Homo sapiens: one gene and its partners. The protein of the gene in region 3 purifies or fractionates together with the protein of the main gene of each other region. This does not show direct contact. Each region holds a gene or a part of one and is shown on either strand. Other genes may lie near its edges.

Region 1 (3,653 bases), on a different chromosome or scaffold from region 3:
GGTGGGATAAAATAAAGAAACAGACTATACAACATGCATACTGTGAAGTCCTCTTCACTTCCAGGTACCATCATATGGAACCCTTATCCTCCCACCACAAAATGTATAATTCTGCTTATATCTGTACCTGTGATCTCTCTTCTTTCAAAAACGTAGACCTTTCTTCTTATGAAAAAAACAATCCCCCCACATATATTCTGGATGGCATCCTCCTTCACTTTGTCTGGGACTTTGGCTCTGCCCACTGTCCTCATCATCCTTGTATCCAGGACCACAGCCTTTGTCATGCAGACATATTCAGCTTCCTCCCATCTCCCCAACCTCCAGCAAAAGAAAACCCTTCATTTTCACATTCCCCTTCAGCTACTGCTCCATTTCTTTGTTTGCCATTTCAACATTTTTCAAAAGGATCACCCACTGAAAATAAAGATATTTCCACATTGTCACCTCCTGTTTATATTCAGCTTACTTCAATCTGGTTTTCAGTGCCCAAACAAACCACTGAGATTGTGGCCATGCTCAGCCGTTACCTGTGTTGGCAAATCCAATGGACACTTTAGTTATCTTACAAGACCCCAGCTGCCTTGACCTAATTGACGTCCTCCCTGAAGTGCTTTCCTTTGCTTTCATGTGCCCACGGCAGACCACTTCTCAGTCTCAGTCCTCTTTGTCCGATCCTCATCCTATCCAACTTCCAGGCGCAGGAGCTCCTTAAAGCTTGACACTGCGCTTTCCTTTCTCTTTCCATATACCCAATGACATTATCTATTGTCTTGTTTTTAAACACTATCCATACGCCCTCCCAAGTTTAGCAGCTGCTGAGACTTTTCTCTTGAACTCCATGTTCATATATTCAGCTATTCACTTAATATGTACTCTTGGGTTTCTCACAGACATCTTGAACTTAAAAATAAATTTTATCCTACCAGAATCTTATCTTTGCTTCAGAATCGTATCTCCCTCACTCTTGCCCATTTCAGGAAATGGAGCCACCAACACACAGCTATTTGAGGCAGAACCAGGGATCATTTCTGATACCTGCTTCTCCTTGGTCCCCCACCTTTGTCTAATCACCAAGTACTAGTTGTTCTGCCCCCAGAGCATCTCTCATTTATTCACCTCTTCTTCACCAAATTGGCAGCATTGTATGAAACTTAAGAACCCAGGCTTCCTTCCTCCATTGAGAAGATGAGCCGATGGAGTATTTGCAGGCAGGATATTCCTTGCAAAAATTCATTTTGGTGCTCCGTGAGTGTTCACCATAAAATTGGTTTAAAACTTTTGAAACAAATGTAAATCGTCATTGAAATAAATCATTGGCCCTTCGCATTGGCTCACGCCTGTAATCCCAGCACTTTGGGAGTCCAAGGTGGGCAGGTCACAAGGTCAGGATTTCAAGACCAGTCTGGGCAACATAGTGAAACCCTGTCTCTACTAAAAATACAAAAATTAGCCAGGTGTGGTGGTGTGCACCTGTAATCCCAGCTACTCGGGAGGCTGAGGCAGGAGAATCATGTGAACCCAGGAGGTGGAGGTTGCAGTGAGCTGAGATCATGCCATTGCACTCTAGCCCAGGCGACAGTGCAAGACTCCATCTCAAAAATGAAAAAAAAAAAAAAAAAAAAAATCATGAAAGCATCCATAGACTGTCCCACTGGAAGCAATGCAACTCCCCAGTGTACTCTCCAAAATGAAGTAAATGTTCAAAGTACATAAAAGAAACCAAGTTAAGTATAAAATAGTTAAAAGTTTTGAGACTTCTACTAAAAAACGATAGTTGTTTTTGAATATAGATTCCTGGTCCTTTATTCAAAACCCTTGGGGCAAGGTGCATTTTGGAATTCAGATTTATGTTTTGTTCTTTAGAGTAAGATGCATAAACTATATATTATATAACACTTCCTGTGGGATCTGTGGTGCTGCCCTATTCATACTGATATTTCTACAACACGATGTATGAATATTCACACTAAAGGGATAAAAGTGATAAATAACCTCATATCAGTTCAGGTCAGATTTTGCTGTCAGATGAGTTCAGGTCAGATTAGATTTTGCCACCAAAAGTGTTATTGAAAAAACTTTTAATTTTCAGAGCTATAGATTTCTGGTTAAGGTATTGTAGACCTGTAAGATGGTTGTAGCTCATCTTTCTAACAGTTGGGACATCTAGACTAGATTGTTGTTGTTGTTGTTGTTGTTAAGGGCACTTCCAGATCATGGTATTAAAATGATATCCTTGGCTCGTACAGGACAACTTATTTCTCTGTTAGATGTAACAGAAGGATGTGTATCCAGTGGAGTCTAAAAGTGGCATCAGTTTATTAAGAAGCAAGGTTTGCTCTTTGTTTAAAGGGCCCCCTGGGGTTTTGTTACTTTACATATCACTGTGAAGGAGATAATAATTTGAAGGATAGAGTGGTATGCTTTAAAGTGAATCTAGCTGTGTCCTGCGGTTCAGAAGACTGAAGTCTGGTTTGCTCATTTTACGGAGATGCCATTTATCTGTGGAGAGGCCATGCAAGGTAAGAGAGGGTCCCACAGTAAATGCTGTTTATGCAACATCACATGGCTTCTTTATCAGAGCTGGTTAACAGGTCTATGCAGGAAAGTTACTGTAACAGAAGAAAAGCAGCAGAGTACAAGGATCTTGCCCTCTTAAGGAATGATAAAGACCTTAAAGCTTCTCTGGAAGAAATATCCCCAGAGGAAGTTTTATGATTAGGCAATTTTATAAAAACTTAAAATGTTAAAGCAATGAAATAACATACAGAAATTTGAATGCTATTTGACTGGTTGAGGTGAGTCTTAATAGATTTCCTGGAGAGACAATCATAAAAATATTAGAAAGACAAAAGTTTTTCATTTACTTTCTTTTCCTGGATGGATACGTAATTGAGAAAGAATGTTAGATTAAATAGAGTTGGTAAATACCACCCTTACTTAAGTATATGAGGATAAAACTTTAATAACATAAGATCCCCACATTTAGTTGCAATATTCCTTTTTAGTTATGTTTCCTCAGCAATCAGTTTTCTTCATTGCCCTATTGGAGTTTCAGGCAGACGTATCTTGTTGGAAGATGTCAAACATATTAAACACCATTAAAACAAAATGAGATAGGGGCCGGGCGCGGTGGCTCAAGGTGGCTCATACCTGTAATCCCAGCACTTTGGGAGGCCGAGGCAGGTGGATCACCTGAGGTCAGGAGTTCGAGACCAGCCTGGCCAACATGGTGAAACCCCGTCTCTACTAAAAATACAAAAATTAGCTAGGCGTAATGGCGGGTGCCTGTAATCCCAGCTACTCGGGAGGCTGAGGCAGGAGAATTGCTTGAACCTGGGAGGCGGAGGTTGCAATGAACCGAGAGCGTGCCATTGCACTCCAGCCTGGGTGACAAGAGCAAAACTCCGTCTCAAAAAAAAAAAAAAAAAAAAATCTGTAAATACTGATGTAAAAAGATGTCTGTGAAATAATATATTAGTTTTCTACTGCAGCTGCAACAAATTGTTATGAACTTAGTGGCTTAAAATAACACAAATAAATATATTATCTTCAAGTTCTGTGGGCTGAAAGTCTGTCACAGGTCTTGTAGACTAAAGTCAAGGTGTCGGCATGGCTGCTTTTTTCTGGACGCTCTAGGAAAGAATTCTTTT
Region 2 (3,653 bases), on a different chromosome or scaffold from region 3:
CGCAGAAAAAGCACGACAAAATCCAATGCCCCTTCAAGTTAAAAGTACTCAGCAAACTAGAAGAAAAATTCCTCAACCTGACAAAAGTTATTACAAAACCTACAGCTAACATCATTCTTAATGCTGAAAGACTGAATGCTTTCCCCTATAATCTAGGGAATGTCTACTCTTGGCAGAGTAGACAGGGATGTCTACTCTTGGCATTTCTATTCAACATTGTACCAGAAGTTCTATCTAGGGTAAGTAGGCAAGAAAATGAAACAAAAGGCATCCAGTTTAGAAAAGAAGAAGTAAAACTATCTCTATTTGCAATTGACATAATCTTGAATACAGAAAATCCTAAAGAATCCACAAACAAAATTAGAACTAATAACTGAGTTCATCAAGAATGCAGGATACAAAAATCAATATTTAAAAAATCAATTTGACTTCTATATCCTTGTAATGAGCAATTCAAAAATAAAATTAAGAAAAGTCCATTTACAATATCAAAAACAAAAAATAGTTAGAAATAAATTTAACAAAAGAAGTGCAAAATGTACACCACAAAAACTAAAAAAGACTGCTGAAAGTAACTGAAGAAGACCTAAATAAACAAAAGCTATTCCATGGTCATGGATTGGAAGGTTTACTATTGGTAAGATGGCAGTAATTCCCAAATTGATCTATGGACTCAATGCATTCCCTGCCAAAATTCTAGCTAGCTTGGAGGTTGAAACTGACAAGCAGATTCTAAAATTCATATGGAAATGCAAGGGACCCAGAATAGCCAAAACAATCTTGAAAAAGAACAAAATCTTGAAAAGAACTCTTCCATCCCAATTTCAAACCTAAATACAAGACAGTGTGGTGCTAGCATAAGAATGGACTTACAAATGAGTAAAACAGAATTAACAGTCCAGAAATAAACCCTCACAACTGTCAACTGATTTTTGAGGATGCCAAAACCATTCAATGGGGAAGGAATAGTCTCTTCCACAAATGGTGCTGGGACAAGTGAATATCCACATGCAAAAGAATAAAGTTTCCAACATGGCAAAACTCCGTTTCTACAAAAAATACAAAAATTAGTCAGGCATGGTGGTGTGCACCTGTAGTCTCAGCTACTCTGGAGGCTGAGGTGGGGTGGATCACTTGAGCCCTGGAGGTCAAGGCTGCAGTGAGCCATGATAGCACCACTGCACTCCAGCTTGGGTTACAGAGCAAGACCCTGCCTCAAAAAAAAAAACAAAAAAACAAAAAAGCCCAGGCACAATGACTCACATCTGTAATCCCAGCACTTTGGGAGGCCAAGGCAGGCAGACTGCCTGAGTCCCAGGGTTCGAGACTAGCTTGGGCAACATGGCAAAACCCATCTCTACAAAATTTACAAAAATGAGCCAGGTTTGGTGGTGCACACCTGTGGTCCCAGCTACTTAGGAGGCTGAGGCAGGAGGATCGCTTAAGCCAGAGAGGTTGAGGCAGCAGTGAGCTGTGATCGCCCCACTGCAGTCTAGCCTTGGTGACACAGAGAGACCCTGTCTCAAAAAAAGAAAAATGAAGTTTAACCCACTTCATATCATATTCAAAAATTAACACAAATGGGCCGGGCACGGTGGCTCACGCCTGTAATCCCAGCACTTTGGGAGGCCGAGGTGGGCAGATCACGAGGTCAGGAGATCCAGACCATCCTGGCTAACACGGTGAAACCCTGTCTCTACTAAAAATACAAAAAATTAGCCAGGCATGGTGGCGGGCGCATGTAGTCCCAGCTACTCGGAAGGCTGAGGCAGGAGAATGGTGTGAACCCAGGAGGGGGAGCTTGCAGTGAGCTGAGATCGGGCCACTGCACTCCAGCCTGGGCGACAGAGCAAGAGAAAAGGAAAGAAAGAAAGGAAGACAGGAAGGAAGGAGAGGAAGGAGAGGAAGGAAAGGAAAGAAAGGAAAGAAAGGAAAGGAGGAAGGAAGGAAGGAAGGAAGGAGGGAAGGAAGGAAGGAAGGAAGGAAGGAAGGAAGGAAGGAAGGAAGGAAGGAAGGAAGGAGAGAGAGAAAAAAGAAAAAGAACGAAAAGGAAGGAAAGGAAGGAAAGAAAAGAAAGAAAGAAAATAAAAAAAAATTAACCCAAATGGATCACAGGTATGAACGTAGGCGCTAAACTGTAAAACTCTTATAGCGCAACCATAAGTCTGCCTGACCTTGGATTAGGCAATGACTTCTTTAGACACAAATCAAAAAGCACAGCAACAAAAGAAAAAAGAGATACACTGGACTTCATCAGAATTTAAAATGTTTGTGTTTCAAAGGATACCATCAAGAAAATGGATGACAACCCACAGAATGGGAGAAAACATCTGTAAATCTGTTGAGTCTAGTATCCAGAATATATAAAGAACTATTATAACTCAACAATAAAAAGACATATAACCCAATTTTAAATGGGCTAAGGATCTGAATAGACATTTCTCCAGCAAAAGTACACAAATGACCAAGAAGTACATGAAAAGATGCTCATCATTAGTCATTAGGGAAACACAAATCGAAACCACAATGTGATACCACTTCACACCCACTAGGAAGGTTATAATAAAAAAGATTGACAGTAACAAGTGCGGGTGAGGGTATAGAAAAAATTAGAACCCTCAAACATTCCTGATGAGAATGTAAAATGGTGTAATGGCTTTGGAAAACCATTCCTAGGTACACAATCAAGAAAATTGAAAATATATATCCTTATAAAAAGTTGTACACAAATATTCACAGCTGCATTATTTGTAACAGCCAAACTGTAGGAACAACTCAAATGCCCAACTGATAAATGGATAAATAAAAGTGTCTATCCATATAATGGAATGTTCTTTGCCAATAAAGGGAAATCACGCCAGGCGCGGTAGCTCACGCCTGTAATCCCAGCACTTTGGGAGGCTGAGACGGGCAGATCATGAGGTCAAGAGATAGAGACCATCCTGGCCAACATGGTGAAACCCCATCTCTACTGAAAATACAAAAATTAGCTGGGTGTGGTGGTGCACACCTGTAGTCCCAGCTACTCAGGAGGCTGAGGCAGGAGAATCACTTGAACCCGGGAGGTGGAGGCTGCAGTGAGCCAAGATCGTGCCACTGCACTCCAGCCTGGCAACAGAGCAAGACTCCGTCTCATTTAAAAAAAAAAAAAGAAAGAAAAGAAAGAAATCACACCTATGACATAGGTGAACCTTGAAAACATGCTAAGGGAAAAAGCCTAATACAAAAGACCACATAGTATATGATTCTATTCACATAAAATGTCCAGAATAGGCAAATCGGTAAAGACAGGAAGTAGACATGCAGTGTTGGTGGTTGCCAAGGGCTGAGGTGAGGAGTGACTGATTACAGGTAACAGGATTTCTTTCGGGGATGAAGAAAATGTTCTAAAATGATTGTGATGATAGTTGTACAACTCTGTGACTATACTAATAACTTGAATTGTACATTTTAACAGATGAATTGTATATAAGTGAATTATATCTCAATAAAGCCATTATAAATTTTATAACATCTCTTTCTTGTGGACAGGGATACAAGTCAGATTCTCACCGAATTTCCCATTACTTCATACGTAAGTTTCTAAGATGGTAAGTAACTGATCCCAATGACTGGTTCAGACACATGACTACAGAGGTGGAAGGTTATCATTT
Region 3 (3,653 bases):
CACTGCAGGAGTCCTGGAACAAGTTAGAAGGCCAAGTTATTTTCTACTGGACTCTACAAAGGTGTGCCAAACTCTCCAGCTGGGGTTCGGCACCCTTATTCAACTGGGAGCTCTAGGAGCTGCCACCTGGCATTGCCATTTTCAGCTCAGGACTCTGCCATGTGTTCTGGCCCCCACTTGTAAGCACAGCTTACTCCTTCTGAGTCAACAGAGCCATGCTTGTCTAGGGGGTAGAATGCTTGGGTTCCATCTCTGAACTCTCCCCTCACCAGCAGGCCTGGCTGTGGCTTGTCCAGTAAAATGACAGCTTCATGGTCAGCCTATGCTAGCAGGTCCAAATCAAGAGTCCTGGTCCCTGGGAAAATAGCCACACCTTATCTAAAGAGGTCAATCTGCTTGTTAGGAATACTGCCAGTGCCAGTGATTCATAGGCACACATCCCAGTTTCACACAACTGCAAGTCTGGCCATGACACTCTCTCACTCTCATACACATTAACAGACACTAGTAACCCCTCCTCTTCCCCCCGAGATGACCTGAGGGAGGGGAAACCAAAATAAACACAAGCTGTCCACGCCTCACCCCTCCCGAGTGAAAGCAGGTAACTGCTAGGCATAAATTTTCCCACTGGTCAAGCCAGAGACCCCTTTGCCTTTGGTGGCCGCATTAGTTTCTATCCTGATGGGTCCTGTTTCAAGGGCTGATCTGTGTTTAGATAGTATCAACATTTAGCATGAGGGCCCTCCCACACCCCTTTCCCTTTGGGTTTGGGAGGCACAAAATCTTCTCCTCCATTCCTTCCCTGTCCCTGTGTTGAGGATCCTCAATCACCAGTATCAATTCTCCAATCCCTCTACAGTGCTCATTATGTGACTGAATAGGGCAGGGTCAGTAGAAAAAAAATTTATGAAAATGATTACAAATAATAGTAATTTAGATTTATATGTGCTACATACTGTGCTAATAGCTTTGAACTCATTCAATTCTCTGAACACTCTAGTACGTAGGTACTATTCTCATAAAGAATAGTGCTCTATTCTACTGATGAGAAAACTGAGGCTTAGAGAAATTAAGCATTTGCCCAAGGTCACCAAGATGGTAAATGACAGCGCTATATTCAAACACAAGATGTTAACTACTATTCCATATTGCTTTCCCAATTGCCTCGCAAACTTGGCCACAGTATCAGGGAAACAGGGCTACCAGGGCCAAGAATTCAGGCCATCTGGTTAGGTTATCCAATCCAGTGTTTGTACAGCCCCCTCTGGGAGGGACGCCTACGTGGACGACATCCAGGTATTGTCTATGCCACCTTAGGAAGAGCAATTTTACAATCTTCCTTGGTAACCTGGTTCATGGTTTAATCATTAACCTAAACTCTTGTTTTAGCAGAATTTTATCAGTGCACTATTGATTGCTCTATTCTGTGTGGGAAGACATGAAAGAAAAATGCCTGTACCATCACCCTTCCCAGAACTGAAGACTGTTATAAAGTTATTCCCTTTAGCCTCCTCTACCCAACTCAACAACTTAAATGTTTCCCCAGATTTCCACTATCCGTCTCCCACTGAAATCACGGAAGCTGCTGTTGTTGTTAAAGAAGCTGAGGCTGTAATGCCAGCATTTCCATGTCATCATTATCTCTGTGTCACAGAGGCTGGAGAAAGGAGGAAGGAACTAGGGAGACCTTCAATCCAAGTTCACTCTCTGCCTCTGCACCAACAGCAGCAATCTGAGGCTCTGGCCTCCAGCAGGGCTGTCTGCATTTTCAGATAGATCTAGCCAATTCTCCTTGAAGGAACTCGAAATGGGCCCCACGGGCAACAGTGCAGTAAGACCCTGTCACGACAGAGAATGAATGAGATGACAAGACAGCGCTGTGCAAAGGGGATGCAGGAAGAGAAGGCAGGAGTCATCCACTTAGAGCTGGATCCCCAGCTGGACCTGAGCGTGAGCCTCCAGAAGAGGTCACCGCAACTCAGCTGGGAATATTCTTCTCATTGCTTTTTAGGTTATCCATCCTTGTTTCCTCAGCAGAAGTGGTGTTTCTGTTAAAGCCAGTTATTTTCTTCCCCGAAAGGTCACCTGAAAAGTGTATTTGAAGGGCCAGATCATAAGCCTGACATGCCAACACAAGTCATCAGCAGATGTTGTTTCTGGAAGGCTAAATTCAAACCACTAACCAGAAAAAAAACTGCCCTTTGATCTGAAGCACAACAACAGTAATAAATCCTCTTTATCACCTGACCAACAGGGCCTCTCTTTCCTTTGGTTTGTGACTGCCTTAGATAGCTGGCTGCCAATAAAAACTGCCCCTTTCCCTTCTAAAAGGCACAGTTCTCAGCGAGTATGAGAATGTGCAGAGTGCGCACTCAGTCACGCAGGAAATGCCCTTCTCTGGATTCAGGGGCAGCAGGGAGTATTGCTGACAGCTCAGCGCTGGTCCGGTCAAGCTCAGAGCCCCAGAATTGAGGCCCTGAAATAACAATCGACCCCTCTCCGAGGGAAAACTAGCCCCGAGGTGCGTAGTTCCCTGGGACTGGGGCTTGCTTTGTGTCTGGTGAAGAGATAAGGACACACTGCTACACTCAGGATGAGAAAGGGACAGGATGGAAAAGCAAGCACGAGCAGCCTCACGTCCTCCATGTGTTGGCTAAGTGGGGCAGGGATATTCGAAGACCTGATCTCTTCTCCCCGACCCCCTGTTCTGTGCCTCGATACTTGAGCCCTAAACTTCTGAGCAGGAACTAAAGATGGTCCATAGTTCCTAAAGATCCAAGGTCAGAAGGTCAGAGATACGGCTGAGGACATTAGAAAAGAGCCAAAGAAACCAGGTACAAGAAGAAATTTTCCACGACTCAGGTGTTTAGTAAGTAGCAGATGGGAATTACATAAAGGGGAAATAGCTTAATTTTATATCTCTCATCACAGGAAAATACTGAAATAAAGTTTCTTGGCACTGTAGCTCCCCAACACCCCAGAGCTGAGAAGCCTGCTCCTCTCTTGGCCCACCTTGTGCGCAGTTTCTGCAAACTGCTGGGCGCTGTTCTTCAGGTCTTCTGTCTTCTCCTCTGCTCGGCCTAATCGCTCTCCACGCTCATTCAAGGCCTGGCTTGCCTTCTGCACTGCGCTGGTCACGCTGTCAGCAGCTGAATGGAGGATGCTGTTTCCTGAAAGGAGGAGAGCAGGAGCATCAGAAACTGGCTCAGCTGACCCACAGTGACCAGACTCCGGCAGGGTGAGTATCCTGTAAGAGGAAGGCAGGTCACACTGCAGAAAGGCCGCTCGTCTAGTGTCTAGGAAACAAGCCGACATTTCTTTTGATTGGGTTTGACTGACGCACTTGCAGCAAGAACACCCACTGACTGCAGGACCTAGGAAAATCCTAAATGCTTCTCTATAAACTCATCACTGACATGCCAGTCATTTCCATTCTGCCAGTATTCTATCTGTGGAGGCTCAAAAGGATGGGGCCTGTCTGGATTTACAACTTGGCTTGCAAAGATAAATGAAAACGTTGACAAGTTCACAGAATTAGGCAAGTTCAATGAGACATATCTGGATCTTATGTTATTTCCTTTTGACCTGTGGTTTCGGTGAATAACCATAGGAAAACTGGGACCACAGAACTTTTCTAGATAGAATGCTCTATA

Evidence for each region.
Region 1: the proteins of STXBP6 (region 3) and ALS2 purify together in Homo sapiens (affinity purification with mass spectrometry; 2 studies listed by BioGRID and IntAct, with this or other methods). This does not show direct contact.
Region 2: the proteins of STXBP6 (region 3) and XPNPEP1 purify together in Homo sapiens (affinity purification with mass spectrometry; one large-scale study listed by BioGRID and IntAct). This does not show direct contact.

The regions. Positions count from the first base shown.
Region 1 is NC_000002.12:201,770,825-201,774,477, reverse strand, and holds part of ALS2 (alsin), read left to right. Parts: intron 1-3,653. UniProt on the Homo sapiens protein: May act as a GTPase regulator. Controls survival and growth of spinal motoneurons.
Region 2 is NC_000010.11:109,916,897-109,920,549, forward strand, and holds part of XPNPEP1 (xaa-Pro aminopeptidase 1), read right to left. Parts: intron 1-3,653. UniProt on the Homo sapiens protein: Metalloaminopeptidase that catalyzes the removal of a penultimate prolyl residue from the N-termini of peptides, such as Arg-Pro-Pro. Contributes to the degradation of bradykinin.
Region 3 is NC_000014.9:24,816,025-24,819,677, forward strand, and holds part of STXBP6 (syntaxin-binding protein 6), read right to left. Parts: exon of another isoform or gene 3,171-3,653; coding exon 3,013-3,170; exon of another isoform or gene 2,966-3,012; intron 2,870-2,965; exon of another isoform or gene 2,334-2,869; intron 1-2,333. UniProt on the Homo sapiens protein: Forms non-fusogenic complexes with SNAP25 and STX1A and may thereby modulate the formation of functional SNARE complexes and exocytosis.